Regions from separate parts of the Homo sapiens genome. Here region 2 is linked to region 1. The links come from fine-mapping of genetic effects on gene expression. A gene starts in region 1. The other region holds a variant in brackets. All regions are shown on one strand. Distances are between the middles of the regions.

Region 1 (15,559 bases):
GCAGAAACAGCCTTCAAAACCTTAAAGCAGGCCCTAGTATAAGCTCCAGCCTAAAGTCTTCCCATAGGACAAAACTTCTCTTTATACTTCACAGAGAGAGAGTGGGAATAGCTCTTGGAGTCCTTCCTCAGACTTATGGGACAACCCCACAACCAGTGGCATATCTAAGTAAGGAAACTGATGTAGTAGCAAAAGGCTGGCCTCACTGTTTATGGGTGGTTGCAAAGGTGGCTATCTTAGTATCAGAGGCTATCAAAATAATACAAGGAAGGGATCTCACTATCTGGACTACTCATGATGTAAATGGCATACTAGGTGCCAAAGGAAGTTTATGGCTATCAGATAACCACCTGCTTAGATACCAGGTGCTACTCCTTGAGGGACCAGTGCTTCAAATACACATGTGTGTGGCCCTCAACCCTGCCACTCTTCTCCCATAGGATGGGGAACCAATCAAGCATGACTGCCAACAAATTATAGTCCAGATTTATGCCACCCAAGAGGATCTCCTAGAAGTCCCTTTAGCTAATCCTGACCTTAACCTGTATAGGATGGAAGCTCATTTGTGGAGAATGGCATACAACGGGCAGGTTATGCCATAGTTAGTGATGTAACAGTACTTGAAAGTAAGCCTCTTCCCCCAGGGACCAGCACCCAGTTAGCAGAACTAGTGGCACTTACCTGAGCCTTAGAACTGGAAAAGGGAAAAAGAATAAATGTGTATACAGATAGCAAGTATACTTATCTAATCCTACATGCCCATGCTGCAGTATGGAAAGAGACACTGGGAAGGATGAGGCAGTTTCTAAAATATCAATGTTCATAATACATGGGGAATTACATTTCTGCAACCATGTCTTTACATTTTAAATGAAAATACTTGATGTGAACAAGTGAGGAGATAAGAGTGAAGGGGTGGAGAGTTCGTGGAAATGGTTTAAAGCCCACCAGCGTGGAGGTGGTGGGGGCACCTCCAAGCACAGGTGGCAGATCCCGCAAGACAGGAGCAGCAGTTAAGGGGGCTGTGGGTGAAGTTGGGGGGCGGCTGATTGTGGGGGAGCTTGTGGTGGGCGGGAGCCCACCCTAGCTCAGACCCAGGGTCTCAGGAGGATGAAGGACAGCAGATGTGAGGGGTGGGGCCGGTCCTGCGGGACTGGACAGACCCAAGCTGCCAGGGCTGAGTCAGCCAAGGCTGTGGGGCCCCCTGTGTTACTGAAACCAAAGACGATTCTACCTCCCCAAGGAAGGTATGGGAGCCCAATGGAGTTCGAATCTCCTCTGAGCACCACACTCTTTAGAAAGCCCAAACACAAATTCTCTCCCTATTTTAAAAACTTCTTCCACTTTCAGTCCCCGAAACATGTCCTTAGACTGCCTTCTGGGGACTTTTCCACGGCATGTTAAAGGTTTGGGACTTTCAGGACAGTGGGAAGACATCGCAAGCTGTGTAACAGAGGAGTGGTGATTCACCCACGGAGTCATTTCTTGGACATTTGTGAGGCTCAGGATGTGCCAGGCCTGGGGCCAAATGCCTGCTGCACTCTCTCCTACAGCCGACAGAGACCCTAGACAGCAGGTGCTGTCCTCAGCCCCTTTCTCCAGATGAGAAAACCAAGGCTTGGACCTGCCCGAGGCCCCAGCCAGCACCTCAGCGGGGCTCCTGGGTCCTGGGGTCCTGGGGTCTGGGCCGGGCGAGCCCAGGGCCCTGCTCTGAGCAGACACAGCCTGCTGCTTTTCCACGGTTCTGGAGTTAGAAAACAATGGACACACGCTGTGAAAGCTGCTCAGCCCTTTGTCTTTGAAATGGCACCAATGTGGCCGGTTCTGGGAGTTCCCGGGAGAGACAAAGTAACTTAATCTTCCAGAGACTCAGTGAAACCAGCAATAGCTCTGGTGTCTCCACAAAGTTGGACAACTTCTATCCAATTAATTACCAGAACAAAACCAGAATCAGAAAACATCTTGGATTGCAAGAGTCTTTGGCAATACAATTTAACTCTTTCCACCCCTGGAATTAGAAATCCCATTAACAGCCTTTTAAGTTTGAAACAGCTGATTCCAGCTGAGCCTCATTAATTAGCAGCACCCGCTGGCTGTCTCTTCTCGGGGCTCCTAGGGAGAAGCACAGTCACTCAGAAAATGAGGCCAGGGTGATGAGTGACACAAATGGGCCCACAGCCTGGGACACAGGGGACACATCCACATCCTGTGGGAGCAAGGCACACCCAGCTGTCTTCCCATGGGCATCTGTAAGCCCCTCTGTGCACTGGGTTTCCTGGCACTACCCTCCCTGTGGAACCTGGCCGGCTGCCAGGAGAAGCTCAGTGGGCATCATGGGTGCTGGGCGGGGCCTCCCGTCTGCCAGAGGCTTTTATGAGCCCTGGGTGACAGCAGCCTGGGAGTCCTGGAGGGGACAGCTGAGGGGATGTCTCTGCTGCAGGCCACACCCCTGGCTTATCTGGGAGTCCCCTGCTCCCTCACTCTGTCCACATGGTCTGGTCTGGGTGGGGCTGACTCCACCCCCAGGTCAGGTGTGCTCCTGTGACCCAGACCTGTGAGAGGAGAACATTCCATTCCCATGGACTGGGTGATGGGTTCCGGGGTGGGCACTTGGCTGTGTGTCCGGAATTGGTTCCTTCCAGTAGGTTCTTGGTCTCGCTGACTTCAAGAATGAAGCCACGGATCCTCACGGTGAGTGTTACAGTTCTTAAAGATGGTGTGTCCAGAGTTTGTTCCTTTAGATGTTCAGATGTGTCCGGAGTTTCTTCCTTCCAGTGGGTTTGTGGTCTTGCTTGACTTCAGGAGTGAAGCCACAGACCTTCTCAGTGAGTATTACAGCTCATAAAGGTAGTACAGACCCAAAGAGTGAACAGCAGCAAGATTTATTGTGAAGAGTGAAAGAACAAAGCTTCCACAGCGTGGAAGGGGACCCAAGCGGGTTGCCACTGCAGGCTCGGGTGGCCAGCTTTTATTCCCTTATTTGGTCCCACCCACGTCCTGCTGATTGGTCCATTTTACAGAGTGCTGATTGATCCATTTTACAGAGTGCTGACTGGTCCGTTTTTACAGAGTGCGGATTGGTGCATTTACAAACCTTTAGCTAAACACAGAGTTCTGATTGGTGTGTTTACAATACTTTAGCTAGACAGAAAAGTTCTCCAAGTCCCCACCCGACCCAGAAGCCCAGCTGGCTTCACCTCTCAATCCCCCCTCTAAACAGGACACCCCAACTGCTGCTGGGAATTGGGCGATGACAGCTCTAGCTACTTCCTGCTGGATAGGGGCAAAGAAGGGGCCCTGCAGTTGTAGTGTCCTCCAGAGGGGAACTCTTTAGGCCAGCCGGTCGGTCCAGGTGTCCTCAATAGAAGTTCTTAGTTGAGCTCATTTGGGGTTTCATTTGTAAGACCATCTGTAGCTTGATGGCCTCAATTCTAGAGGGAACAAATTTGACAAGGAGGTTAAAAATACAGGGCCTGAAGGCAAGTAATAGCAAGATGGCTGTCACAGGACCTAGAAAGGGGAGAAGCCATGTCACCCAACTCCAGAGGGTGGTATAAGAGTTTGAAAGGCATTGTCTGATTTCAGAAGCCTTTTCCGGTAAACACCGGGTGGCATCTCGTACTATCCCTGACTGGTTAATGTAAAAACAACACTCTTCCCCTAAGAAGGTGCAGAGTCCTCCTTTCTCAGCAGTGAGGAGGTCTAGGTCTCAGCAGTTTTGGAGAGTCACTGCTGCCAAAGAGTCTATTTGGGATTGTAGAGTAAGGATAGATGTCGTTATTTCTTGCAAACTGTCTGAGAAATCCTTTGAGAGTGTGTGGTAGTCGGATAATGAAGTAGATAAACTGGCTATTCTGGTTCCTTTAGCAGTAGCCATTCCTAACCCTGTAAGTAGGGGTATTAGTTGTATGGCTCTGCGCTGACAGACTTGAACTTTGAGGGGTACTGATAGGGTCTGATTTCCTGGGGCAGTGTTAATGTTGGGACTTAGAAAGACTAAGGTGCAGGTGCCTGTCCAGGTGGTGGGGAGGCAGATATAGGTCGACGTTCCACGTAAGAAGAATATACCTTGGCTGGGTAGACAGAACTGGTTGTGTATGTTAAAAAGGTGTGAGTTTGTTGTTTTCATTTTCCCATACTCCTAGAGTACTTGCCAAGGTAGCTCCGGTGAGCAGCTGGAAAGGGGTGTTGGGAGCAAACTGAGTGGCTGCCTGCATTCTATTTTCCCATTGGAGAAAAACCGTTTTGTATCCACTAGGAACCATTCGAGAGAGTGACTGAAAGAGGGGATGAGAAGGCATTCACTAGTGGTAGGGGCACTGCTGCAGGGGTTCCAGGGGTGAACAGTCATGCAGGGAGTATGTTTGCCATCACAAAACCTGAACTGTTTGTTAAGCAGGGAAGAGGTGATTTTGGGGGGACCTGAGAAGTGGACAAGCTGTCTGAATGGAGCTGTTTGGGTGACTCAGAAGTTACTATGATCAGTTGGGGCTTGAAGATGTAGGGTGTAATTACACTGATGGGGTGGCAGGTGCCCCAGGGGCAGGCCTGATAACAGGTTGCACTGGATGCATAAAGGGGCTTAGAAAGTTAAGATGGTATTCGTAGTTACAGGGCAGTGTATGGGCTTTTCATTGCTTGTGTAATAGGTGAGGTTGGAAATGTAAGAACATAAAAGTTGGATTGTGGGTCCTGTTAGGGTACTCTTGGTCCTATCAGAGATGGGGAAGCCGGCTAATGGTTGCATATTTAGAAGTCGGAAAGGGTCTTTTCCTTCATAATGAGGGTGGTAGGTTAAGCTGGTAAAGACCCAATTTTTTGTGGGAATGGGAGTGGCAATGTAAGCAGAGGTTGATAGAGAGATACAAAGCCAACAGTCATTTGCCCAGGAAGGACTGGACTGGTTTAACATTGAGTGGGTTAAGTTGAGAGTCTTGTAGAGGTAATTAGGAGCTAGAGGAAGGGGAGGGGTGATTGTATGAGGTATCCAAGGAAGTAGGAGGGATAGACAGGCAGAGTAAATAGGAAGGTAAAAGGGTGCTCTGGAAGACAAGATCATTTTATCCAGGCTGAGTTAAAGGTAGGCATAAATTGCTGTCAGAAGGAAGGAAGATAGAAAGAAGGTTAATGTGATTAGGATTTTCGTCCCGGTAGGAGCTACAGTATGTAGTCCTATCCTGAAGAGTATGGTTAATACGCTGCTTAGTAATATGATGAAATAGTAAAAGGATTCCATTAAAGGGGGAAGGAGAGGTGTTACAGATAAAGATTACGTAGGCCTTCACTTATCTTTTTAAGGAGAAAAGGGTTTTCCTTCAGGATCAGTGGTAGGAGCCTTTTTAGTCTGGGATGTTTCCTTCCGAAATAGGAGATGCAAGTCCTCCAACGGTTCACAGGTGTATCAAGACTCATCTGGCTGATCTTGGGACCCCCGAGCTGACAGTTCTGCAGGTTCCTCAGGGGTTGTGGACACTCTCACACCCAGTGCAGCCGCCTGTGACCACCCAAGGACAGTGACGTGGTGCTGAATTTGCCTCCTGTGTGACGTCAGGACCCTGCTCCCCAGTGGGGGCCTCATCCCCAAAAATGTCTCTGGAGTCTTTGGGGTGCTGCTGTTGACACATGAGATCAGTCCTGCCATCTGATCTGGCACTGCTGCTGGCCCTGCTGCTGGTCACTCAGCTCCTGGCCACCATGCTGGGGTCTGAGCCCCACGGTCGTCCCCACCTCTCAGCCCAGGCACAGGAGGGACACAGGGAGTAGAGTGGGGTGATGCCCCCGTCACCTCCCGAGGCCCCGGGAGTGAGTGCCGGGACCCTCTGTCCTAACCCTCTGCCTCCCTGGGTGTTAACCCACCTGGGCAAAAGTGCGTGGTTCAATGCCAAGGCCAGGGCCATGGGCTCGGCGTTTCCCTGCAGAGTCCCTGGGCTTCTCGGCCCATCACAGGCTTGAGGATCAGCACCTGCAGCCCGTGGTGGTTGTTTTCTCATCTGTAAATGCGGATTTGGGCTTTAGAGCTGACTCTTTGTCACCGGGAGCACAGCCTGTCTTCTCTGTTCCTTTCCTTTGTGACTCAGAGGCCCTCTGCGCCTTGGTGGGAGGAAGAGGAATCATCCTTGTTGCTGACCCCCTGTGACGGTGCTGGCTGGACGGGGTGTGCATCGTGCCAGGAGCTGGTCCCTCATTCATCCTCACAGCAGCCCTCCCGGGCTCGCCCGCCGTGACTTTCACTCCCATTTCACAGACGAGGACCCTGAGGTCCAGGGAGGCTGAGTGGGCTGCCCTCCCCAGCTGGAGCCTGGAGGGGATTTGAACTCGCGCCTCGGGGCAGAGCCTGTTGCTGGCTGGGCTGGGCTGAGCTGACTCCCCAGGGCCATCAGCTCCACTGCATCCTGACCACCTGGGAACTGTGGCCAGCACTTTTCAGGCTCGAAGGCATGGCTGCTTACAGCGTGCCCGAGGATGGGTGTCATCGTCCTCACCCTCTGCACTCACTGTACCCGTCTTTGCAGGGTGAGGGCCCTGCCGGGTCCTACTCTGGGCACTGAGGTACAGAGGGAAGCCCTCCTGCCCTGCCCCAGGAGGGTGCTGGTCTCCACCAGGACACAGATGGAGGTGGATGAGGCCACAGCCCAGAGAAGAAGGGCAAGGTGGCAGGGGGTGCTGGTAGAGGAGTAGGACTAAGGGTGGTAGTGACACTGGTGAACCCCAGCTGAGGAGGGGCATGGACTCTTCTGCACATCAATGGGGAGCCACAGTATGTTGTAGAGGAAGCTCATTCTGCCCTGGGTCCCCAGGGAGCTAAGGTCTCAGCCACATTCACCCTCACAGCTGGGCCCTCCAGCCCCTCCCGCCCTGGGAAGTGTGGCCTCTGTTTTTGGTGAGGTCACAGCTGCAGGGAGGGCCAGGGCGCTGGATGCCTCAGGCTGCAAATGGCTTCACCCAATGCCTCCGGCTGTGGGGCAGAGGCCGGAGCTAGAAATAGACCCGCAGTGACCCCCACCCCAGCCACACAGTGCAGGCCTCCTGACCACAGGTCCTGGGCCACCCCTTCCTGCTCACATGGGAGGGAACCCTGAGCTTGAGGGAGGCTGTTCCCCAAACAAGGCCACCTTGTGTAGCTCTCTGAGGGCCTTTTATAATCTCCTTCCCTCCACCAGGACAGCCCAGCTGCAGCCCGTCCTCACCAGCGACCCCTGGGCCCTTCGCCTCAGGGCCAGGCAAGCGGGGAGCAGACAGCAGTGTGTGAGGAGGGAAAAGAGCCGGACTACGGGGACCCCCAGCCGCCCGCCAGCCCCTCCCCTGCAGCCTCTCTTCCCAGATGTCAAGGTCCCTGAGCTGCCCCGTGCAGGGAGCAGGGTCAGGTGAGGTCCAGCGGAGCCCAGAAGCTGTTGCAGGAGCAGGACGGAGGAAGCCCTGGGGGAAAGGCCCGGCTCCTGTCCTCCCTGTGTCCCCTCCCCTTCCTCTAAATGCCTGCCCTGCCTCCTGCAATGGTGGGATGGCCTGGAGGTGCAGAACGAGGCTGGCCCTGCCTTCTCTGGGGAGCTCAGCCACTGGAGGTGCCTGAGTCTGGGTTCATCATTGCAAAGACAGAACCTGTTCTGCCGTCTTTAGGGAAGGGAAAAGGGCCTGGGGGAGATGGGACAGTCCCCCTCATATCATTGGTGGCAGTGCGTGTAGGAGCAGTCTGTTTGGAGGACATTTTGTGTAATATCTATTCAAATCAGGTGTGCCCAGCCTAACCTGGGGGCCAGCCCTTTACCATCCTCACACGCTCACATCGGCAGCCAATACCTGGACCGTCTAACCAATCAACTGGTTCCATTGACTCACTGACTGGCCTAACCCAACGGCATGAGCAGGGCTGGGGCCACAGGGGAGGAGCAAATCTAGACAGCAGTACAATTCGCCATGTCTCCAGAAATTCTTTAGGACATTCTATTGTGCCTGTCCAGGCTCTGATGCTGGCCTCAGCAGCCCCCATCTCCTCCTCACATGAGGTCCTGGGCTGTTCCACTGAGCCCTCCACTTTCTGAAATGAATGGGGACACGTTCTATTGTTATTCGAATTGTGGGAAATTCGACAGTTATTCGAGTTGTGGAAAAGCAGGCTCCAGAACGTCTTGGAGATATGACTTAGCAATCTGCAGGTGTCCACGGTGAGTCCTCCCCAGTAGGAGGAGACAGGAGTCTCTCTGGAAGGCGAACGCCACAGCTGCCCAGATGTTCTCCTGCAGGGGAACCAGACACCATCATGACCCAAAAGGGCTGCACTTCTCGGGGTTTGCAGAATGTGGCAGAGGTGGAAAAACTCGAAAGTCCCTAAACACAGGTAAGCAGACAGCGCAGTGGTGGTGGTGTCTCCCACACTTTGAGTCTGTGTTTGCATGTGTGTGCACACGTGTCTATATGTGCATTTGTATCTGCTTCTTCCATGTGTGCATGCCTCTGTGCATGTGTGTGTGTGTGCATGTACTTCTGTCTCTGTGCATGTGTGTGTGCATGTGTGTGTCTGTGTGAATGTTTGTGTATCTGTGCATGTGCATGGTTGTGGTATACATGCATGCGTATATATGCATGTGTGCACATGTGTGCTTGTGTGTGTCTCTGTGTGTGCATGCATATGTGTGCATGTGTGTGTGTGAATGTGTTTGTGTATCTGTGCATGTGCGTGTTTGTGGTATACATGCATACGTATATACGCATGTGTGCATACGTGTGCTTGTGTGTGTCTCTCTGTGCACGCATGTGTGTGCATGCGTGTGTCTCTCTGTGTGCATGCATGTGTGTGCATGTGCAGATTCATGTTTCTGTGTCTGTGCCATGCACGTCTGTACATATGCACATGTGCATGGGTGCATTCATATGCACACGTGTCTTGTGTACATGCATGTGTGCCTGTGTGTGAGTGTGCGCCTGTTGAGTCAGGTCTGTGAGTCCCCCTGAGGGCCAGGAGGCCGTGGGCAGGGCTGGTCCTGGAGAGCACTTCTTTTCCACGCACTTTGGCTTCCCCCGCTGAGCGCACCCCCCGCACTTGGCTGGCTGCTTTCACCCCAGCCCCGTTCCTCCTGTGCCCAAGAACCTCCTCCTCGTCTCCTCCTCAGCCACGCAGCTGGTGCAGCACAGCAGACCTGCACTGAAATGCATCGGGGAGAAAAAGGGAGGTGAAGTCAAACATCCCATCTGCTCCTGTCCACGTCCTCAGGTTCACTGCCAAGTTCTGACACTGCCGACTCCCCACACTGAAGGCAAATGGCCTCCCCGAATGCAAAACTCATTCCTTGCTTGCCAGCACCCAGAGATTCTTTCTGAAGATGTTTATCTTTTCTCATTCACTCTTCAAAATCCTCCATGTAGAGAAAATGCCTTAGAATTTCCTGAATAAGGAAACAACAGGCAGCATCCTCATCTACATCCCCTCGGGATTGCTGAATGGAATGCAGAGAGGAGAGGAGAGTGGAAAATAGCCCCTGGGTTTTAGGAAATATTAAGCAGTTTTTCAAGAGCCAAGAGCCCTGCAGGAGGCAGAAAAGGATATGATTTTGCAGTTTTGAATACGCTTTTCTCTGGGAGTAGCACTTTTCTACCAGAGGCTGACATTGGAGGGACCACCTGACATCAGATTAGACATTCACAAAAAGGCGCTGCAGGCAAGTGCTTCATAAAAAGACCTTCACCAAAGATGCACCTGACCCCCGGGCTCAGGGAGGCTCTTGTTAAATGGAGGATATTATGCCTGCTCTATTTACTGTGGGGCCTGCTTGGGGCTAATCAGAGGTTGCTTCAAATCTGTGCAGGTAGATGTATTCATGCAATAATACCTCATCTCCACTATATTGTTGTTTTAGCAAAAGATACTTTCATTCATGTTTTCATCTTTTTATTGTGGACAATTTTAAACATGCAGAAATGGAGGGAGAAGGGTATGGAGAACACCCATTTACCATCAGCCAGATGTCACAATTACCGATAACTTCCTGCATTTGCTTCTTCTCTAGATTTTTTGGAATTAATTCGAAGTACATTGCAATCACGATGGCCTTTTACTTCTAAATTCTACACTCTGCACCTCTAAAATATACAAGCATGTCCCAGGACCACCCTCAACTACTTCAGGTCCCTCGGAAAAGGGTAAGGTCAGCCAGGCTGGACACCACGCTGTGGGTGGCCTTAGGTCCTGCAAGCAACTGTGGCCACCAGCGTCGCAGCAGCAAGGTGAGCCTGAGCAGGAGCACACTGTCCCTACCTGTCTCTGTTTCTTCCTGCCCCTTGGGGTGTGGGCACCTTGCCAGCTGGGAAGCTGTAGTCTGTAACAGTGATCATCGTGCTCTTCGCTGCCGTCATTTCCAACATCGTCCGAGAATTTATGAAGTGCCGAGAATCCCTCTTACGGCTTCTCCTATATTCAACTACTGAATCCACATAAACCTGTTTTACAGATGGGCTTATAGAAGTGCAGCGATGCAAATCCAGACCGTTTAGCTTCCAAGTTCATACCCACCATCATCTTCTGCTCAACTGCAGAAGCATCAGGGTGAAGCCGGCCGTGCTGGGCTGGTGGGGCAGGTGGCAGTGGCTACCATGCAGGTCCGTGTGGGACTCCCCAGGGGACTTCATGCTGCATGATTCCCACCTCATGTGTGGACCTTGGTACCAAACTTGTGCTTAGGATTCAATTCCACATGTGAGTTATTCCACGATTCCAGTTCTGTACGTGTTTTCCATGTACGTTCACTAAAAACAGACCGAGAAACTTTATATCCAACTGATGACTCTGCCTAAGACTGTAGCAGGATTGATAAGGAATCAGAGACCGATGGGGTTGAGGAGGATATTTATTATTTAGGTACACCGGCCCAGTAGGACTAACATTCCAATGACTGAGCCCTGAACAAAGAGTTAAGTTACCTTTTAAGCATTTCATGGGGTGGGGTGTTGTGGGGGGGAGATCTGTGCAGGGGGAAGCATATTACAGAAGCGAGAAACAAAGACAGTTATTCAACTGAGACATGTATTACATCATTTCTTACTTTTCAAGGAAAAACATGTTTTGCGACTTGAGTTTATCTGTCTGGTGACCTTGCAGCTGCACAGCTAGGGAAACAGGGTCTTCACAATGCCTGGGAAGGGAGGAGAGATAAGGCTCACTAGCCACAGAAAAACAGGCAGTTAATTTTTAAAGGACTCCAGCTCTTTCTCTTTCTCAAGGGGAATTGGGTTTTCTTTTTTTTTTTTTTTTTTTTTTTTTTTTTTTTTTTTTTGAGACGGAGTCTCGCTCTGTCACCCAGGCTGGAGTGCAGTGGCGCAGTCTCGGCTCACTGCAAGCTCCGCCTCCCGGGTTCACTCCATTCTCCTGCCTCAGCCTCTCCGAGTAGCTGGGACTACAGGCGCCCGCCACCACGCCCGGCTAATTTTTTTTTTTTTTTATTTTTTTTAGTAGAGACGGGGTTTCACCGTGGTCTCGATTTCCTGACCTCGTGATCCACCCGCCTCGGCCTCCCAAAGTGCTGGGATTACAAGCGTGAGCCACCGCGCCCGGCCTGGGTTTTCTTACATACAACTGAGTTTCTGCTTACACATTCTTTAATTTCTTTTAATTCCTGTTTTAAGACCAGAAAGAAGATGTGGAATGTGGAGGGAGCTGGGTCGATAGAACATGGAGTTTTGATTGACTTTTATTACCAGGAACTTCACAGTGAGAATTCCTCAGAGAGCATGGTATGGTAATGCTGTTCATACTCAGGTGCATACGTTCACATGCCCACATTCAGATGCCCATGCTGGACAGGTGCCCATCCCAGGCAGGTGTTCACACTCAGGGGCTCACTCTCAGGGGCTCACCCCAGGAAGGTGTCATACACAGGAGCTCACTCTCAGGGGCTCACCCCGGGCAGGTGTTCACACACAGAGGTTCACTCTCAGGGGCTCACCCAGGAAAGTGTTCACAGGGGCTCACTCTCAGAGGCTCACCCCAGGAAGGTGTTCACATTCAGGGGCTCACTCTCAGGGGATCACCCCGGGAATGTGTTCACACACAGGGGCTCACTCTCAGGGACTCAGCCCAGGCATGTGTTCACAGGGGCTCACTCTCAGGGGCTCACCCCAAGCAGGTGTTCACACACAGGGCCTCACTCTCAGGGGCTCAGCCCAGGCATGTGTTCACACTCAGGGGCTCACCAAGGCCCACCTGGGGAGCACAGGGGCTCAATCCCACACTTTACACCAGCAGTTCCTTGCAGACCTCAACAGCTCTGCTCAGCAGTGTGGGAGAAAGAGGAACATTTAGAGAACAGAACCGTGGGCGATATTATTTGACATGTCCCTCCTCTTCCTCTTCCTCCTGTCACAACATCAGGATTTCCCTGAAGAAAGTGACCTGCACTTTGACCCAGCCCGTCACATCACCAGTGAGCATGTGACCTATTACTGGCCAATCAGAGTCATACACAGCCCAGCCTCATCATGGTGATTGGATAAGAGGTGGGCACATGACCAAATCAAGCCAATCATAGTCCCAAACATCCTCATCACAGTGATTGGATAACATGTAACCACATGACCAGATCAAGCCAATCAGAGTTACACACACTCTCATCACAGTGATTGGATAAGGGATGGGCACACAACCAAATCAAGCCAATCAGAGATGCACTTCCTCCTCCTCGCTGGGACTGGATATTAAGGGCAGTAGATACTGATTTTCATTTTGGAAAATGATGCAAATTTTCCTTTTTAAAATTGAATTATGTAAAATAAGGTAGTTGATGGAAAGGAAAAAATTAAGTAACAGGTGATAAGCTAATACCTCAAACATGGAGCTCTGTGAAAAGCCAGCCTTGAAGCCCTGAGTTAATCCAGCCACTAGAGCCTCCCTGAATCCTGGCTGAGCCACTGGCCCTGGAGGGTGCAGGGGACGTCGTCCACCAGGTCTCCCTGCAGCTCCGCAGCAGGCTGCGGGTACCAGCCATTCTAAATGCAAAGCACATGCCCGCCCGATGAATTATGAATGGTGTTTACAATTCCTCCAACACAACCGGGCCATCAGTCATTTATAGCTGCACCAATGGCTCTGCCACTCTGAGGTCGCTGGAAGAGAAGGACTGACCAAGCCTGATGGGTTGGAGGAGAAGCCAGCGGAGGTGCCGGGATGGCCTGGCCGGGCCTGCTGGAACCAGAGGCAGGCCGATTCCAGGACCAGTGTTCTTTCCTTGGAAAACACGGAGTGAGCTTCCTGACGTCGCTGACCACTTCCATGAGAATGGAAGAAGGAGGATGCACCCCGGAGGGGCAGAATTTCTTGTCCTGGAATGCCGGCAGTCAGCCCCTCACTCCCGTCTTCCCGCAGAGGAGGCTCTTTGCCTTCTCAGGCTCTTCAGGAAACAGATTCCACTCGTCACCGATAAACCAGCTCCAGGTTTCGTTGTCCTTGCTGCCAGGCTGCCCGGCTGTGTCTGGCCTTACCTGATGGTCTGGCACCACAAGTGGGTGCTGCGCTGTATGCTCACCAGTTGCTGCTCCTCCTTCCTTGGTACGTGGTGAAGCCACATTGCCCAGCCTGCCTGGCAAGGAGATGTGGTCACATGGCTGCGTTCTCATCAATAGATGGGATGGGGACCGTTTCTGGCCGAAGGAAGCATGATTACCGCCTTTATGATGTCTTGTCCATTCTCCTGGAAGGACACAGACATCAATGAGATGGTGATTCACATCATGGAAGGGGTTTGAGTCTCAGAAATACACCATGGAAGAGAGTTACCTGTCTCATAACCACTTGGACTGCCATAAAGGCAAGACATAAGCTTCTATTGGATTTGAGTCATCATGTATTGTATGAATGTGTGCAGTTATTTAGAGAGAAACTTGCTTACTGACACAGACACCATGTGTTGAGTATCTAATATGTGCAGAACATTGTGCTAAATGCTTTGCATATACAGCGTTGCCTAAGCCTCACAACAACCTGCAGGCCTGGAGACCATTATTTTCCCACTTTAGAGATGAAGAGATTTAGATTTAGAGAAGTTAAGCTTGCCCTGGGTCACACACCTACTAATGAATAGAATTGGGACTCCACAGCTCAGGTTCTCAGTGCCAGCTAGAGTGTCCTCAAAGCAACATGATGAAGGAGTATTAGCCATGAAGATATTCTTTCTCCCTGCTCCATCCAGCAGGGAAGGGGCCTCCCTGGAGCTCCACAGCAATAGGCCCCAAGAAGGTGGGCAGACAGGAAGGGAGGCCACGTGTGCCATTGCACTTCAAGCTCAGCCTGGGTTGGGGCCTGCATGCCAGTCAGGAACCTCTTTCTGCAAATGGCAGAAACCCAGTTCCCAGTGGCCCACACAGAAAAGGCCACATACCTGTTGTTCATCTACCCCAACGTTCCAAGCAAGGCTGGATCAAGGTGTTTCTTGATGAACTCAGGAGTCTCCTTCTCCATCTCTGTCTCTGTTTTCCCTGAAGAGGAAACAAGGCAAAAGAAACTTGAGGCTCATGTTCTGAAAGCTAGATAGTGAAGTGCCCTCTCCTCTGTAGCAATCACTGAAGACCATCATCTACACCTGCAGCAGCATCGTCACCTTGCAGCAGCAACTCAGGGTCACTGACTTGCCCCTGCCACCTGCAGCAACCACTCGGGCTGACTCACCTGCCCCTGCCACCTGCTGCAACCACTCGGGGTGACTCACTTGTAAATGCTGCTGCATAAGCAATAAGGGTGCACCCAGGGAGGGAGCAGCTGGAAGGGAAATGCAGAGAGAAGTTCTGGGGGTTCCAGGTGGGACGAGTGATCAGCTGACAGCCCTCCAACCACGATGTGCAGTCCCCCATACCACGACCCCTGTCCCCATCCTGCCTCTGCTGAGGAGTCTGAGAGCTTAGTCCTTGGGGTCACCCTGTTCATCCCTGCATATGTGCAGATCTGCTCTCACGCTCCTGAAGTGCTGGAATTCGTGCAAGTTCAGAATCTCAATTATTTCTGACCTCAACCCTGTAAGCCTCATGTAAGTCTTCTTCCTTTGTCTGAACTCACACTAGCCACTGAAGGGAGAGATCTGGTGACTTCATTCAACATTTGGTTATTAAGCACCCCCCTGTACCAGGCTCTGTCCCAGGCGCTGGGGACACAGCCCCAGGAGAGCCATGGCTCTGCTCTCCTGGAACTTATGTTCCGGTCCAGTGAAGAGACATACAAGTATGTGAGAAAATGAATACGATAATCCTCAGTTGTCAAAAGGGCCGTCGATGAAACAGAATGGACCATGTAACAATGTGGCTGGGGAGAGGCCATTATGAGCTGGGGCAGCCAGGAAAGATCTCTTAGAGGGTATGATATTGGCACCAACAAGGAGCCAACAGCATGCAAACCTGGGCAGGTGCATACCAGGCAGCGGCATCACCAGGGAAAGGTCATGCAGCAGAAACCAGTGTGGCCCTGTGAAGAGCAGAAAGGAGGCTGAGGGCAAGGAGAGGAGGCCAGAGCTGCAGCAGGTCAGCAGGGGTCAGGCCCCGTGTGCCTTACAGGCAGGGGAAAGGGTCTAGCTTTTGCTAAGTGCCCTGGCCA
Region 2 (15,559 bases), 25 kb after region 1:
GCCTCCTAGCTATGAGCTCTAAGGAAGCAGAATTTTTCATTATATTCCCAGCTTTGATCACAGTGTCCGGCAAATGGCAGGTCTTCAAACACGTGGGCTTTGTCAAATTCTTTGAAATTTCTACTAGAATGTATTCATTTTTCTGCCACTTAAAATAATTTTAAGTTATTGTTTTAATTTGTTGTAAATTTTGTTTGACTTTGAGGAAAATGTAGAAAAATAATCTAAAATCTTGAAGATAAGAAAGAACTTAAATGTCCATAGACAATAAGCAAAGGATAGGTTATGGAATTGCACAGATTTTAAAGTCTCTGAATGCAGAGTGTGTCATCATGACTTTGTAAGGCAAGTGAACTGGAGGAAAGCATTTGAAGACAACATGACAAACAACAAGTTTGTATCCTTAATATGTAAAGAGCATATTCAAATCAATATGAAAAAAGATATCTGTATACAAAGGATTGGCATGAATAAAAAGTTCAAGAAAGAAGACACACAAAAACAATGGAGCCGCAATGGAAGCAACATCACTAATTATCCAAGACATGCAAACGAAACGAAAATACTTCAAGTTCATCGGGTGAGAAAAGACTGAAACTCACTGCAATAGCTGATGCCAATGAGGGTCTGGGGGATGGATTCTCAGGACCCTCTGGGGGCTGGTAAGTGTCCCCTGTTCGAAGCTTCTGGGGGCAGTTTGGTGAAATGTGCCGAAAGGCTTTCACATTTGGAGATGTTTGCTCCACGAAGAAATGCCTACAAGGACAGGCTCACAGGACCTGTGACTAGAGCCAAGCTCCCGAAGCATGTAGGGCTTAGCTGCTCCCACTAAGATCACCAGCCCTGAGTCACTCCCTCTGTGCCCTTCCCCTACCCTCGCATCCCTGTGGGAGCTGTCCCTGCCTCCACCTCTCCCCCACTCCCCGATCAGGGACTTATTGTTTTTTGGTTTATGCTGGAGGAGCAGTGACAACAGACCAGGGCCAGGGGTGGAGACCCACACAGTAGGTCCACAGTCACTGCGAAAATGTGCACGCCACAATGTTGAGTAATTTTAAAAAAGGACCTTTTGTATATTAGGACCCATTTTGTTTCAAAATACATGTATGACATCACTATGCAGAAAATGTTAAAGCTGTAAAAACATGAACAGAATGCCTGAAGCGTGGGCCGTGGAGGGGCACGCTGACCTGCACACGCCTCCCACTTCATGGAAATGCCTTCGCGCTGCTTACTTTCTTGCTTTTCTTTCACAGGAGGCTTGTGTCACTTTTACAACCAGCGAAGTCACGTGTAGGTTCCGTGTCCAGGAAGAGAACCCCACCGCCTCCTTCTGGATGGCAGGTGTCCCTCTCGGCTGAGCAGGTGTCTGGGACCATGACATCCAACCTGGGCTCTCCTGGCCCCCAGAGAAGAGCTGCCCAGTGCATGTGCTGGCTGCACCGTGACGTCCCCTATGAACGAGGCCCACAGGCAGTGGCTGGCTGGGGGGATGCCCCTGCCCTGAGCTGGAGTCTCCCCAGGTGGCTGCTTCTTCCCCACCCCGAGGGTCACAGCCCAGCCCAAGCTCCAAGGGAATGGAGCAGCTGCCTGCACCAAGCTTCCCTCCTCTGGAGAAAGCACCTCCTCTTCTCCCTCACGTGCTCCCTGATGACCGCCAGGCTCCTTGACATGGTTCCCAGGACCAGCCTCTCCCAGGGTCCCTACTCCCAGTACCCCAGTCCTCACCATTTGTGACCCTTCAGCCCCTGCTGAACCCTGCCAGCCCCAGGACAGGCCACAGCTGTCATGCCACCTCCCAGCCATGATGAATGGGGAACGGGGAACTGTCTGACCTTGGGCTGGGTTCAAAAGCAGGGTCAGCCCAGGCACAGAGCCTGTTTGTTTGAGTGAATTGAGTGGGAGGCTGCTTTCTCATCGGGCTGAGGAGGGTTCAGAGGATTGTGGTCTCTTTGTTTTCATTCAAGGCTCCATCAGCCGGGGCCCTGGCAGGAACCAGAGTTCACTCAACCGTTCACAGAAGGGTGCCTTGCAGAGGCGCAGGCAGGGTGAGCAAGGATGGCGTGGAACTCGAGGGGGGGTGCCACAGTGGATGTTGTCGCCACCTGTGGCCTGAGGAGCAGGGCAGGAGCCATGCTGCTGGGTCCCAGGGAGGCCATGCGGGGCACTCCACAGAAGCTGGGTCTGGAGACTGGGGGTCCCCGTGAGGCCATATGGGGCACTCTACAGAAGCTGGGCCTGGAGACTGGGGGTCCCCGTGAGGCCATGCGGGGCACTCTACAGAAGCTGGGTCTGGAGACTGGGGGTCCCCGTGAGGCCATATGGGGCACTCTACAGAAGCTGGGTCTGGAGACTGGGGGTCCCCGTGAGGCCATGCGGGGCACTCTACAGAAGCTGGGCCTGGAGACTGGGGGTCCCCGTGAGGCCATGCGGGGCACTCCACAGAAGCTGGGCCTGGAGACTGGGGGTCCCCGTGAGGCCATGCGGGGCACTCCACAGAAGCTGGGCCTGGAGACTGGGGGTCCCCGTGAGGCCATGCGGGGCACTCCACAGAAGCTGGGTCTGGAGACTGGGGGTCCCCGTGAGGCCATGCGGGGCACTCCACAGAAGCTGGGCCTGGAGACTGGGGGTCCCCGTGAGGCCATGCGGGGCACTCTACAGAAGCTGGGTCTGGAGACTGGGGGTCCCCGTGAGGCCATGCGGGGCACTCCACAGAAGCTGGGTCTGGAGATGAGGGTCCCCGTGAGGCCATGCGGGGCACTCCACAGAAGCTGGGCCTGGAGACTGGGGGTCCCAGCTCTTGCCAGCAGCACAGCCCCATGCAGGGAGGGCACGAGGAATAAATGCCGCGACCTCAGCCTGTCTCTCCAGCCTGCTCTGTGCCCCAGGGGAGACTCCATTAGTGGAGCCCAACTCAAAATAGGGAGGGAAGGGAGCCTGGATGGACAGAGGGCCCCAGTCATCTTAGGGCGGGTGGAGTGGGGTCGGGGGAGCCGGATGGGGCCTGCAGGGCAGCGGGTCCCACCCAGGCCCACCTGCAGACATCAGGGGCCTCATCTGGGAATGCGGGGCCAGGATGCTCTTGAACAAATGGAAGTTTTGGCAACTCTGGACTTTGGGGTAATAGGCTGGGACCATAGAGATGTGACCCACAGCTCCTGTCCATGCTGGCTCTCATGGCCACTGGTCTCCCTCACTTGGTCTCCGGCCTGCCCTCTGCTTCCGAGTCCGCCACTCCCCACCCAGCCTCTGTCATTTGCACGCTGTTGATGAACTGTACAGCGCGGAGGTGGAAAATGATAATCTCTCCCTCCTCAAACAGCTCTGGTCCCACTAAGCCCAGTAATAAGGAGGAAATGCAAAATGAATCTGCCGCAGAAAACCAATAAGCGCCGAGGCTCAGAGCCTTTGGCAGGGAAGAGCACAAAAATGCCAAATACAATTTTTTTCTATTAACATTATATCCGCAGGCTCTTGTCAAGGAAATATCTGATCGGATCCCAAAACGAGCAATTATGAGAGCTCACTGTCTGAGCGAGACGCCTCTGGCAGAGGAATTTAATTTTGGAAAGTGTCCTATCTCAAACCATGGGTCTGGCCTGCTTTCTGGGGGAGGAGGCCAGACCACCAGGGAGAGACTGGTCTGGGGGATGCGTCCCTGTGGCAGAGGTGACTCCCGGTCAGGCAGAGGATCCAGAGAGCACTGGAGGCTGAGTCCTCAAGGTCCCCAAGCATGAGGCCTTTGAGGTTGGGGCTGGGGGTGAGGCTGGAGAGTCACAGAGCAGCAAAAGCCTGGGGTCCTGTGTGCAGCATGGACAGCAAGACACAGCCACTGACTGGACACAGAGGGGACAGGCCCTGGAGTGACAGCATGGCCTGTCGGGCACACAGGGCCTGGGCTGCCACCAGCAAGTGTGCAAAGAAGGAAAAGGTGCCCTCTCAGGACTGTTGAAATGGGAAGGTGCCCACCCCTTCTAGGGGAGGACCTGGAAGAGGCCCCTTCCTGAACTCAGCCAGGGTCAGAGCAGGCACTCTGGGAGCTGGTAGTGGCTAGACCAGACCCTCACCACAGCCAGGAGCCCTGGGGCGCAACTGATGGCAGCTGGACCCACCCTCACTCCTGGTGCGTGTCCTGAGGGCATGCCTGCCTGCAGGGTCCCTCACTAAGGCCCTGGCCCAGGTGGTGACAGATGGGAACAGAGGAAGGGGCATGGAGGAGGCTCTGGACTCGGAACACCCACCTGGCTGCTCAGGGGGCAGGGAGGCCAGCGGCCACCACACAGGGTGGACCTGGACATTTGCTCTGGGGAGTGGACTCACTGCTGAGGGTCTTCTGGCCAGGAAAGATGCCTGCAGGTCCCACGGCAGGGCAGGAAGGATCTGGGGGCTCAGTGGAGCCAGCGTGAGAAGCAGGGAGGTGTCCATGAGCTGACAGCCCCCTCCTCAATCCAGGATCTCCAGGTGAGCAGCAGGCCACTGTTCTTGTCCTCCCCATGGATGGCCCAGATCGTGGGAAGGGTCAGGCTCCCCCAGACCCCAGAGGCAGCCCTGCCAGGCTCCAGAGTCCCAGCACCGTGAGTGCCATCCGGTGACCCCAGGTCCTCCGCAGACACTTGCTCTCCATTCATGGTCTCCTCCTCTCCTCACCTGATCCCCTTCAGGACTCCTTCCTTCAGCCTGGAATCCACCTCACCGGATCCCCAGCTCCTGCCCTCCGAGCACTGTCCTGGGAGTGTCCTGGCCTCTCTCCAGCGGGGCCAGGCCTGGAGCTGAGCTCTTCTTTCCGGGGCACTAACCTTGGAGGGCCTGGACAGAATGAGTCGGGGCAGCACCTGCAGGATTTCTGTTCTAACAACATGCCCCAGGCAGTTCTCCTAGGCCTGATTTCAGCAGAATTGGACCCTCTGCCCGGGAACCTATGTGGAAGCTGAAAACTTGGCTGGGAGGGGAAGTGGATGTTCAGCCCCATGCTCCCATCTTGGCCAAATGTTGGAGCAGATCCATTCGCAGGCTCCAAATGTGCACATACATAAGGGTTTGGGGAACTTTTGCAACGCTGCCTACACAACTCACGGGGACGTCAGCACGTGCGTTGTTTGTTTGAATGGAACCGGCTGTCTTTGGGGCTCTGGAGTCACTTGCAGAATGCACAGTGCCCTCTCTCTACTCCCTGCCTCCCTTTGACCATTGATTTGTCCAGTGGATGCCAGCATCAAACCAGCAGGACAACAAAATGCCGGCATCCGTGACAAGGACCTGGGTTGTTGGCCATGGAAACCTAATCAATGTGGAGCTGCTCATGGAACAATCCTCCACCTCCGGCATGTCAGGCAGAGCAGGGCAGGGGCAATGGGCAGGGCTTCTTGGGATGAGGCAGGGAAGAGCCAGCGGGGAGCCTCCCTTGGCTCAGGGGTCTCCTTTGTGGTAAGCAGTGAGAACCAGGGCCCTTCAGAGGGGAAGCAGACCGTCGGTGTCCAATGTGACCCCAGGAGGGTGTGGCCCACCCCAAAAAAACAGTGTTGGGGGGTCTTCTTACCTCAAGCGATGCCCCGTCGTGTCCCTAGCCAACCTGGGTTTCCAGGAATAGATGTGGGAGGAGGGACCCCCACGAAGGAGGTGACTTTCCTGAACAAAGCAACCTCCCAAGACTCTTAGAATCTGATAACCCTTCACTCTTACTCCTCAGGGGAGAAGAGTCTCTTCCGGCCAGGCCATGGCAACCATGGGTTTGATGAGCTGTTGAATTTCCTACTGGAAATCAGCAGCCCAGAGCCCTGCTTCTATGGCAGGGTCAGGCAGGGTCAGTCAGTGCTCGCGGCATGGACTCGGGAGCGAGAGGGCCAGTGTCCTGGTTTACAGAGCGTGGGGTGCAGGGAGCTGATTATTCACTCTGTGTCTCCATTTCGTTTTTTGCAGAATGAGCTTTGGTGTGGATTTAACCTGAACAGGGCAGGCACAGAGTGTATGCTCTGTGTGAATTGACCTTCTGTATTTTCATCCTTCAGACGTGGAACCAATAGAATCTCCTTTATAAATGTATCGATCATTTCTGCCCAGAATCTCTTCCTGTTCTTAATCACTTGGCCTGAGGCTCCACTCCTGACCCCATAACTGTACAGGGTTCCCTCAGGCAGCAGGCTCCTTAAAGAAAAAACTTTACTCTTTTTTTTAATAGAGTAAGTGAGTCACATCCTTTTCAGAAGTAGCATCCTAACGTTAGTACATAAGATGAAGTCACAAATAGCAGAATGACCAAAGGCAACACCTTCGTAAGCCCTTGAAATACAGTGACGGACACAACACCCCTCCCTGGACCCATGGGTGTTGCTTCCTGCAGCCAGGGACCAGGTTCCTGTGTCTCCATCAGAGCCCCAGGCCAGGGAGTGAGTCTGCATTTACCGGCTGTGTTGCATGAAAAGCGTGGGCCTCTCTATGGCACGAACATGCACCTCGGCTCCCTGGAGGAATGAAGGGAGGCCCTAAGTGTCAGGCAGTGACCGCTAACCAGGGACCACAGCTTCACTGTCAGGGTCTACTGGAGCCGTGGCCTCACCAGGGTCCTAGGCTGCTCATCCCCGTGGCATGAAGGCCAACCAAGTTGGTGGAGAAAGAAAATAAATCACCGCCTGCACAGTGAAAATTCTGTTGGACGTTGAGACGGCTGTGGCGACCGTTCTCCTCTGCATCTTACCTGTG[AGCAGCAGTCCTGTG/A]GAGCGCAGCAGCGCCAGTGTGTTCTCAGGAACCTTCTGTCCGAACGGAACAGTTAGTGTTGCAGGCGTGGTCTAGTCGAGAGACAGAATTGACTCAAGACATTTCACAGGGAGGAAATGTAATGCAGAGAATGGGTGGAAGAACACAGAAGCCAAACCCAGGGGCGTGGAGCAGTCCAGAATTTAGCAACAGCAGGAATCCAGCACACTGCTCTTTGTCTTGGGTTAGAGGGAGAAAGACGGAGGCAAAGCTGGGACTTCAGTAACAGCAGACGCTCCCAGACAAGCCAGACACACCGGAGGGAGCGAGACAGAAAAGCACCAGGCTGTGGCCTCCCCACATCTCCCGCCTGCCATGTCCTGCTGAGGCCTCCCATTGGCCAGGGATGCTGTGGGTGGGCCTGTTCAGGTTCTTGACATCTGTGCACGAAATAATTTGGGAGCAAGTCCAAAGTAAGAGTGGGCAAAGAAGTTTATTGCAAAGCGAAAGTGTGCACCACTAGCTGGGTCAGAGCGGGCTGCTCTGGAATAAGACAGTGAGACTGGCACTGGGAAGTTCCTTTGATGGGAGTCTCACATGATTATTCCTGAAGGAGCAGGAACTAAGCATGTTGTGGGTGGGTTCCTGGGCCTACAGAGGCCGTCACTGTACATGCTGGCACATACATTGCCTGTCTCATTAGCATTTTAAATCTCTGCCCAGGCATGTGTTTTTCACTATTACAGTGAGCAAAGTTCAACATAAGGACATGGTTCTTGGCTCGGCCTTTGGGACTTTTCCTCCAACAGTCACTCCTCCTTCAGCAAGGAAGTTGCCCACTGCGGGTGACCACAGATGTCTGTCCCAGCCACTTTCTGGAGCGTCCGTTACTGACCGGGGCCCCTGTGCTAACCTGTTGGCCCCATTTGGCTTGCTCTTAGCCGCCTGCAGGTAATCTTGCCTGTTGCCTCGGTAACTGCCTGCTTAAGAACTGCCCAGAAATGGGGGACAAGGAGGCCAGGGAGTACAGCACCCTTGGGAAGCAAAGAGCAAAGCAAGGTCAGCGAGTGGGTCCAAGGGCAAAAGCAAGTGGCCCGCATGTCTGTGCATCTTTGAGGTTCCTGGAAGGTAAGTTTAAATGTTTGCTGTTTTTAATATATTGTGGGGCTTGGGGGCCAATTTTTTTTATCGTGGTAAAATACACATAACATAAAATTGACTATCTTAACCATTTTTAAGTGTACAGTTTGATGATACTAAGTACATTGCTTTTACTGTGCAACCATCACCACCATCCAGCCCTCCATCCATCCATCCCTCCATCCATCAATCCATTCCTCCCTCCATCCATCCCTCCATCAATCCATCCCTCCATCAATCCATCCCTCCATCGATCCATCCATCCATCAATCCCTCCATCAATCCATCCCTCCATCAATCCATCCCTCCATCAATCCATCCATCCATCTGTCCATCCCTCCATCCATCTGTCCATCCCTCCATCAATCCATCCATCCCTCCATCCATCCTTCCATCCATCCCTCCATCCACCCATCCCTCCCTCCATCCATCCATCCCTTTGTCCATCCTTCCATCCATCCCTCCATCCGTTCATCCATCCCTCCATCAATCCATCCATCCATCCCTTTATCCATCCTTCCATCCTTCCATCCCTCCATCCACCCATCAATCCCTCCCTCCATCCACCCATCAATCCCTCCCTCCATCCTGTGAGTGGGATCCCACTGCACCTGCATCACCTCCCCCAGGTGCATCACACTGTGGCATGTGTTAGAAATTCCTCCCTTCTTAAGTGACTGATAATGGGGGTGGGGTGGGCTCACCTCTGTCCTTCTGGAATGTGTTTTCTACGTCCTTTATCATTTTTCTGGTCCCTCCTTTACTGCATTGTCTTCTTTTGTGTTTAGTCGATTTTCTGTAGTGAAATGTTTAAATTCCTCTCTCATTTCCTTTTGTGTTTACTCTGCAGCTATTCTCTTTGTGGCTGATATAATAAAGTTGCTACACTCTGACATGAATTTATCCTGGTTAAATGTCAATAACACAAAAACTTCCACTCCTTCACATCTCCATTCCCACTTCCTTCAGTTGTTGATGTCACAGAATTATATCTTTATATGTCATGTGTCCAAAAACAGAAACAAATAATTTTTAAATGTATCTGTCTCTTTAACTATGTAGAAAATAAAATGTGGAAACCCAAAACAAAGTTATAATACTACTGACAACTTTTATACAGTACCTGTTTACTATTCAATTGGGTTGTCTATTTCTTACTGACTTACAGACTTTACAAATATATTCTGGATATGAGTCCTTTGCCAGTTACGTGTGCCTAAATAGTTTCTCCTCCTAGGTGGTTTATATCTCTACTTTCAAATTTTTTTTGAGACAGGGTTTCACTGTCACTCAGACTGGGGTGCAGCGGCAAGATCATAGCTCACTGCAGCCTTGATCTCCTGAGCTCAAGCCATCCTCCCACCTCAGCCTCCGGAGTAGTTGAGACTACAGGCACACATCACCACATCTGGCTAACTTTTAAATTTTCGTTTTCGTAGAGACAGGGTGTGTCTATGTTGCCCCGGGTGGTCTCCAACTCCTGGGCTCAAGCGATCCTCCCACCTCAGCCTCCCAAAGTGTAAAACATTTTTTTAACTTAATCCCAACTGTGATAATATAAAACATGTTTTTTATTTTAATTCCTAATTTTAATTAAGTGCAATCAAGACATTTTAACCCTTAAATTTGTTTCCTATTAAACGTCCATCTCTGCCACGAGGCCAAGAGTTATTCCCCTGTTATCTTCTAAAAGTTGTTTCACAGTTGGACTATGGTCTAGCTGGAAGTGATTTGGGGGAGGATAAGGAACATTGGAAGATCCATTTATTTGCGTATGGATATCCAATTGGCGTGGCATTATGGGAAAGACTCCTGCCACCCTGCAGGGTCACCTTTGTCATAGATGAAGTCTTGGTGCACACGTGTGATGATTCCTAGGCCCTCTGGGTGACCAGTACTTCGGTTGTCTTTCTGACATTGTTGCTTCATCACCAGTGTAACGTCTGAGGGCACAGTCCTGCACCTCGGTGGCTGCTGTTCTGCTCATCTTGGATGTCCTCTTTTCTTACGTGTTTACACACACGTTAGAATCAACACATTTATTTTTGCAAAAACAATCTTCCAGGATTTTGAATAGGCTTGCCTTGAACGCATAGAGACATTTGAGGAGAATGTCATCTGGACAAGATCCTTTCAAGCTAAGGATGGTTTGGGAGGGTATATGTATCTGTTGTGGTGGTGGTAGCCCATTAAATACTGCTTATAAACAACCTCTTTCAAAGGCAATTTGGCAATGTCTATTAAAATAGCGAGTGCACTACTCTGTTAGCCAACAATTCTACTTCTAGAAATTTATCCTAGCGTTACACTCACTCAGATTCACAAAGACAAACTATTTTAATTGGATCTTAATAGTATCTTTGTTTGACAAGATGAGGAATAATCTAAATGCTGTGTATAAGGAACTTGGTAAATAAACTATGGTGCATCCATATCACAGAATACTGTGGCAATGTTAAGAAGAATGAGGTTGGTCCATATTCCCTATGTACAATTGTGGACCCATATATTGTTAAGTGAAGAAAAAAGGAGAATGAGACAGAAAGAAAGAGGGAGAAAGAGAAATAGAAGGAAGGGAGGGAGGGAGGGAGAGAGGGAGAGAAGAGACAGGGAGGAAGGAAAGAACAGGAAAGAGAGGGATGGAGGGAAGATGGGGAAACACAGGCCCAGTGCCTTCCAGAAAGGAGCTGCCTCTGTGTGCGTGTGGATGCGTGTGCATGTGTGTATAGGTGCGTGTGCGCATGTGTGTGTGCGTATGTGTGGCGTGTGTAGGAAATATATGCGCCTAATCTTAAGATATCTCTTAAAGGACACTAAACAGCTGCTAAGGGTTGTGCCTCCAGGAACACAAGCTGCTGGCTAGAGATGGGGGTGGGAAGATGTGGCTGAGATTGCCAGCCGTTCAGCAGGCTTGGCCCATCTTCCTTCTGGGCACAGTGAGACCACATTTCTCAGCCCACAGTTGGCATGAGAATGTCTCTGGGCAGCGGTCAGGTCACAGGCCCGTCCTGTGCTGCTGTCGTCTTCCTCTCTGAGGTCTTCCAGCTGGAACAAGGCCTTGACAGCAGGCGACCCCTTGCCCCACACAGTGGAGTATTCTTTTGCTCTGGAGTGGCGTTTCCCAAAGCACATCTGCAGGCCTCTGCCTCATGCAGGGTCACCTTGACACTGTTGAAATGCAGATCCCTGGCACCATCTCTGCAGAGTCATACTCTAGATAGAGGCCCAGGATCTGGGGTCTGTGTTTCAAGGAGCCCTGGGGGGCACTGCCTTTGAGAGCAATCACTTGACAGCAGCACTCCCCAACCTGCCTGATGCACTGGGATGATCCTTACACACCCAGACCTAGAGCCCCGTCCACGGAGATGCGAGTTCGGGAGCTCTGGGGGCCCAGGAACCTGTATTTCAAGCACACGTCTGCATCCCCGGTTCTTACCATGCAGAGAACTTGGGAAGCTGCTTTAGGAGACCCCCACCTTAGATGGTGTGGAACCCCCTCATTCTAGGGCATGGGCACGCACAGGGACTCCCTCCCCAACAGCTTCGGGGGCTGTGATGGCATCACAGCTGGGGGAGGAGAGCCAGGCCGTGCACTCGCAGTGCCCAAGTCAGGGGGCCAGCCTTTGTTGTGTGCCACCGGCCTGCCCTTGAGGGACCTGCTAAGTGTTTTGCATCCTGCCAACCCCCTCAGGGAGTGGGCAGGCACCCGGTCACTAAGAATGACGAGTGGCAGCAGGAAGCGGAGACACACCTGACTGAAATTGGTGACCTTCCTGGGGAAGCTCAATCCACAGCCACTGCTGAGTGCCATTGTCAGCTGTTTTCTCCATCTTGAAATCAGCATCCCAATGAAAGTCCTATGGGCATGAGCTCGGCCAGACCGCATTGATCATCTGTCTCACTTTTCTTTCTATTCTATTTTTAGGGGTTTTTTTCTCCTCTTCAAAGAAACAAGTTGTGTAAAAGTTGCAGAAGATTGAGGAATACTGAAAGAGATGAAAGGCCTCGTTTCATCCAGGCCTCAGGGATGAGCCCCGTAACAGGTCAGCGCTAGTTTTTCAGAGCCATCAGACACAGTCATGTGAATGTGTGTGTGTGATAGGTGTACACACACATACATACATGTGCACATATAGTCTTCCAGGGCACACAGGATGGTCACTTCTTCAGTAACTGCTACTCAATATTTCATGGTATAATTATGCTGTGATTTGTTTACTACGTTCTCTATTGGTAGAATTTTCGCTCTTACAAATTTGTTTCACTTTGTGCTCCTATAATTTTGCCATGAATAATCCTAAAAATACACATTTGTGTAGTTATACAAGTGGCTCTGTCCTGCCATGGTTGAGAGAGGAGACTCGGGAGTTGGATGCATGGGTTAGAGGCACAAATCCAGGCTCAAGGACTTACTACCCATGTGAGCACTGTCTTAGTCCATTGTGTGTTGCTCTGAGAGAATACCTGAGGCTGCGTAGTTTATAAAGAAAAGAGGTTTATTTGGCTCACGATTCTGATGGCTGAAAAGTCCAAGTTTGGGCAGCTGCATTTGGTGAGGGTCCTAGAATACTTCAACTCATGGCAGAAAAGAGAAAGGGCATCAGGTGTGTGCAAACAGATCACACAGTGTTGGGGGGGAAGCCAGAGAGGGAGACCAAGGAAGAAAGAGAGGGAGACCGATGAAGCCAGAGTGGGAGATGAAGGAATCCAGGCTTTTAAAGCATCCTCTCTCTCAGAAACAAGTCCATTCCTGGGAGAGCGAGCACTCACTCACTACCAAGAGAACAGCACCAAGCTATTTGTGAGGGATCCATCCCCATGATCCACACACCTCCCACCTCTCAACACCACACTGGGGATCCCATGTCAACCTGAGTTTTGGTGGGGACCAGAGAGCTACATCCAAACCATAGCAACCATGGACCCATTACTCAACTCCTCTTCACTTTCACCTGCTAAGTGTGGAAAATTTGTACTGTCAGTCCTTACATGAGTGCTTACATAAGAGAGCTTGTGTGAAGAGTAAGGTAACATACTCAGGCATGTTGGAGCAGTGCTCACCTCACAATAAGTTCTTGGTAAGTGTTAAGTACAGTTTTATTACTGGTGAGGAGTTTTCTAGTAAATACATAGAGGTAGAATTGTTGAGCGAAAATATAGTTTGGCCACTTCTTTTGTCCTTGGTCAGGTCACAATCTCCTGTAAATCTTTCACAAAACACAGTCAGTGATTTACATGCTTCTCCTTTAATCTCAGACTTAGTTTTTAAAACTAAGTGATTGCCATCTTTGCATTTCATCTCAGTGCTGTAAAATTATCCCGGCCTATGTGCGGGAAGGGGTAAGGGCCCCTTAAACAAAGATGGAGTGAGTGATGTCCATTCTTTTGCTGTTTCACTGCCACAGCAGGAGAGATGGGAACGGGGGGCAGATGTGGAAAATATTTGGAAGGAGATCTGATGACATGTGTCAGTGTGGGAGTGAGAGGGGGAGAACCAGCGCTAACTCTTGCATTACCGACACGAGAAACTCAGCGTCACTGAGCCTGCAGGAGCGTGGTAGAGGGGATATAGGTAGGGTTCGTTGTGGGTAAATTTGAGAGGCAGTTCAGGGTGGTGGACAAAGCTGCAGACTCTGTATCAGAGAATTAAACGAGACAACCCCAGCAGGGACTAAGTACACAGCAAGCGCTCAGTCATGCCATCATGATGAATGTCAGACGTCCCAGGGTCATTCAGGTGTCCACCAGAGACATGACCACAGGCTCCAGGGTGGAGACGTAGAAGCTTGTGATCTCCGTGGTGATCGCGGTGGAGGTGGGAAGGGATCGGCTCCGCAAGCTGTCCTGCCGGCTGGCTCTGCTGGCTGCCGTAATGAAGGCTCCCCGGAGCCATGCCACACCTGCCCGTGTGCGTGTCGCCCGTGGCTGTCCTCACTCTACCACGGTGAAGTTGAGTGACTGCAACAGAGATAGCGAGGCCACAAAGGCTCCAATCCCTACCGCCCATCCCTTCCCAGGAAGCCCTTGCCAACAGCTGGATTCTATTCCCGAGCAGGAGCACATATAGAGGAGGGGCGGGGTCTGGGGCCTCAGGAGCTTCAGCTTAGATGTTGCTTACAGGAGGAGAGGAGGGGCCGGCGCAGGGCCCCAGGGGTGTCCCGAGAGATGGAGGAGACAAGTCAGGGAAAGGGAGGGTTTCCATAAGAGAAGGGCCAGCCCGCCCCTGCCGCGATCCTTGTGGTTGCTTTGCTCTTCGCCTGAGGACCAGATTTCTCTGCAACCTAATCTTCGAGGCAGATGAACCCCACAGCCCTTAAGGTGACGTCTCCTCTACCTCAGAGGAGATGTTCGGTCTGAGCATCTTGGAGTGTCCTGGAATCTTCTGGCTCCAAGGCCAAATGCCCAGGAAAGGGCTGGGGTTGGGCCGGCTCCTGTCAGGTGCTGGTAAAGGCCTAGTCAACTGTCCGTGATGGGCAGGGTCTCACTGCAGGCACTCGGCAGCCGGCCCACCCCGGGTGTCTGTAGTCCCACGTCTTCAAGACACCCTTTCAGTGGCTACCCCCGAGACTGGGCAGTGGGAGCCCTTTATTCTGGGAGCCTGATGCAGTGAGAAGGTGCATTTGGCACTGCGATTCCACAAGGCACGCCAGGCATCTATGCAACTGTCCATTGGAGACTCCAGATCCCAGCTGCAGACAGGGTCGCAGAGCGTCCCCACCCACACACATAGCCTGACAGGCGGCCTCAGCCTAGCGTGGACATGGAGCCTTCACATAGCACTCCGGCTCAGGCCACCATGACGTGCTTAACTCTGCTACCTACCGAGCCCCAGAGTTCCCCCGGGGGCCCCACGTCTGAGACCGTCGTGACCACAGACACCAGGGTGGTGACCAGCTGCCTCCCCGGGGGGCCTCCCCTGCTGTGGGCGGCTCAGGGCTGCCCCACCAGGATGCCCCCATCAGCCGCCTGGTCTCTCAGGGTCTGCCGCGACTGCCCCATTCCTGATTCTAGTCTTTGCTTTTTGAGACAACAGAGCACAAATTCCATTTCAGAGGCAACCGTGAGGCGTGCGACATGGCCGCAGATGGGGTTTATTTCTTGGATTTTTCTCTCCAGTGTCCCGTCTGATCTGAGCTCTGTTCATTAGAACTCAGGGTGTTTCTTGCTGATTGAGTGAGAACGGACACAGAGCCCTGAATTCTCCTGGAGGCTGCTCATTGGAAAGTCTGCTCCAATTCACTGCAGATATATAAAGCCTCGCACCAGACTGCATCTCGGGAAACACTGTTCTGCTCTGTTCTATTTTGTCCTGTTCTATTTCCCCCAAAGGCTGAGTGCGGAGCTTCCTGAGGCAAAACTCCTGTGGACCCACCAGGAAGCTGGTCTTGAAAGATGCTGCACCAGACGACTCGTCCACTCACTAGAGACTCACTTTGCCGGAGAAGGGCTCGGGCGTCGTTGGAAGAACCCAAAGCCAGGCATGAAAGGACCTCAGCCAGGGAGGGCACCGCATTCACACAAATGCTGCGTGTTCCCATGGAAACAGCACAAAACCTGACCGAGGAAATGAATGCTGAATGTAAACTATTTGTTTAATTTTAATGGGAGTCAATTTTTAGCGGTGTATTCCCAGTGCTATTTGAAATTTTCATAGGGTAACAGTAAATGCCTCTAATCTTTTTGTTTTTAATTGGCTTTTCCAGTGGACTGATTCCCCGTGAATAAAGGG

What was found. PIP is the estimated chance that this variant, and not a neighbour inherited with it, causes the effect.
Region 2: its variant is fine-mapped to the expression of LINC02370 in tibial nerve (GTEx, PIP 0.99).

Annotation. Positions count from the first base shown.
Region 1 is chr12:131,339,330-131,354,888 of GRCh38, forward strand. LINC02370 (long intergenic non-protein coding RNA 2370) reads left to right here and starts at 8,141. Exons shown (of 5, transcript NR_103736.1): 1 at 8,141-8,332; 2 at 9,999-10,215. RefSeq lists enhancers at 1,185-1,758, 1,759-2,334, 7,201-7,838, 9,031-9,575 and a silencer at 6,435-6,659.
Region 2 is chr12:131,364,700-131,380,258 of GRCh38, forward strand. LINC02370 (long intergenic non-protein coding RNA 2370) reads left to right here. Exons shown (of 5, transcript NR_103736.1): 3 at 1,257-2,316; 4 at 2,425-2,640; 5 at 2,748-2,856. Among named protein-coding and RNA genes, the nearest start is that of LINC02370, 25 kb to the left of the region's middle. The variant AGCAGCAGTCCTGTG/A (reference allele first, on the strand shown) is at 6,697.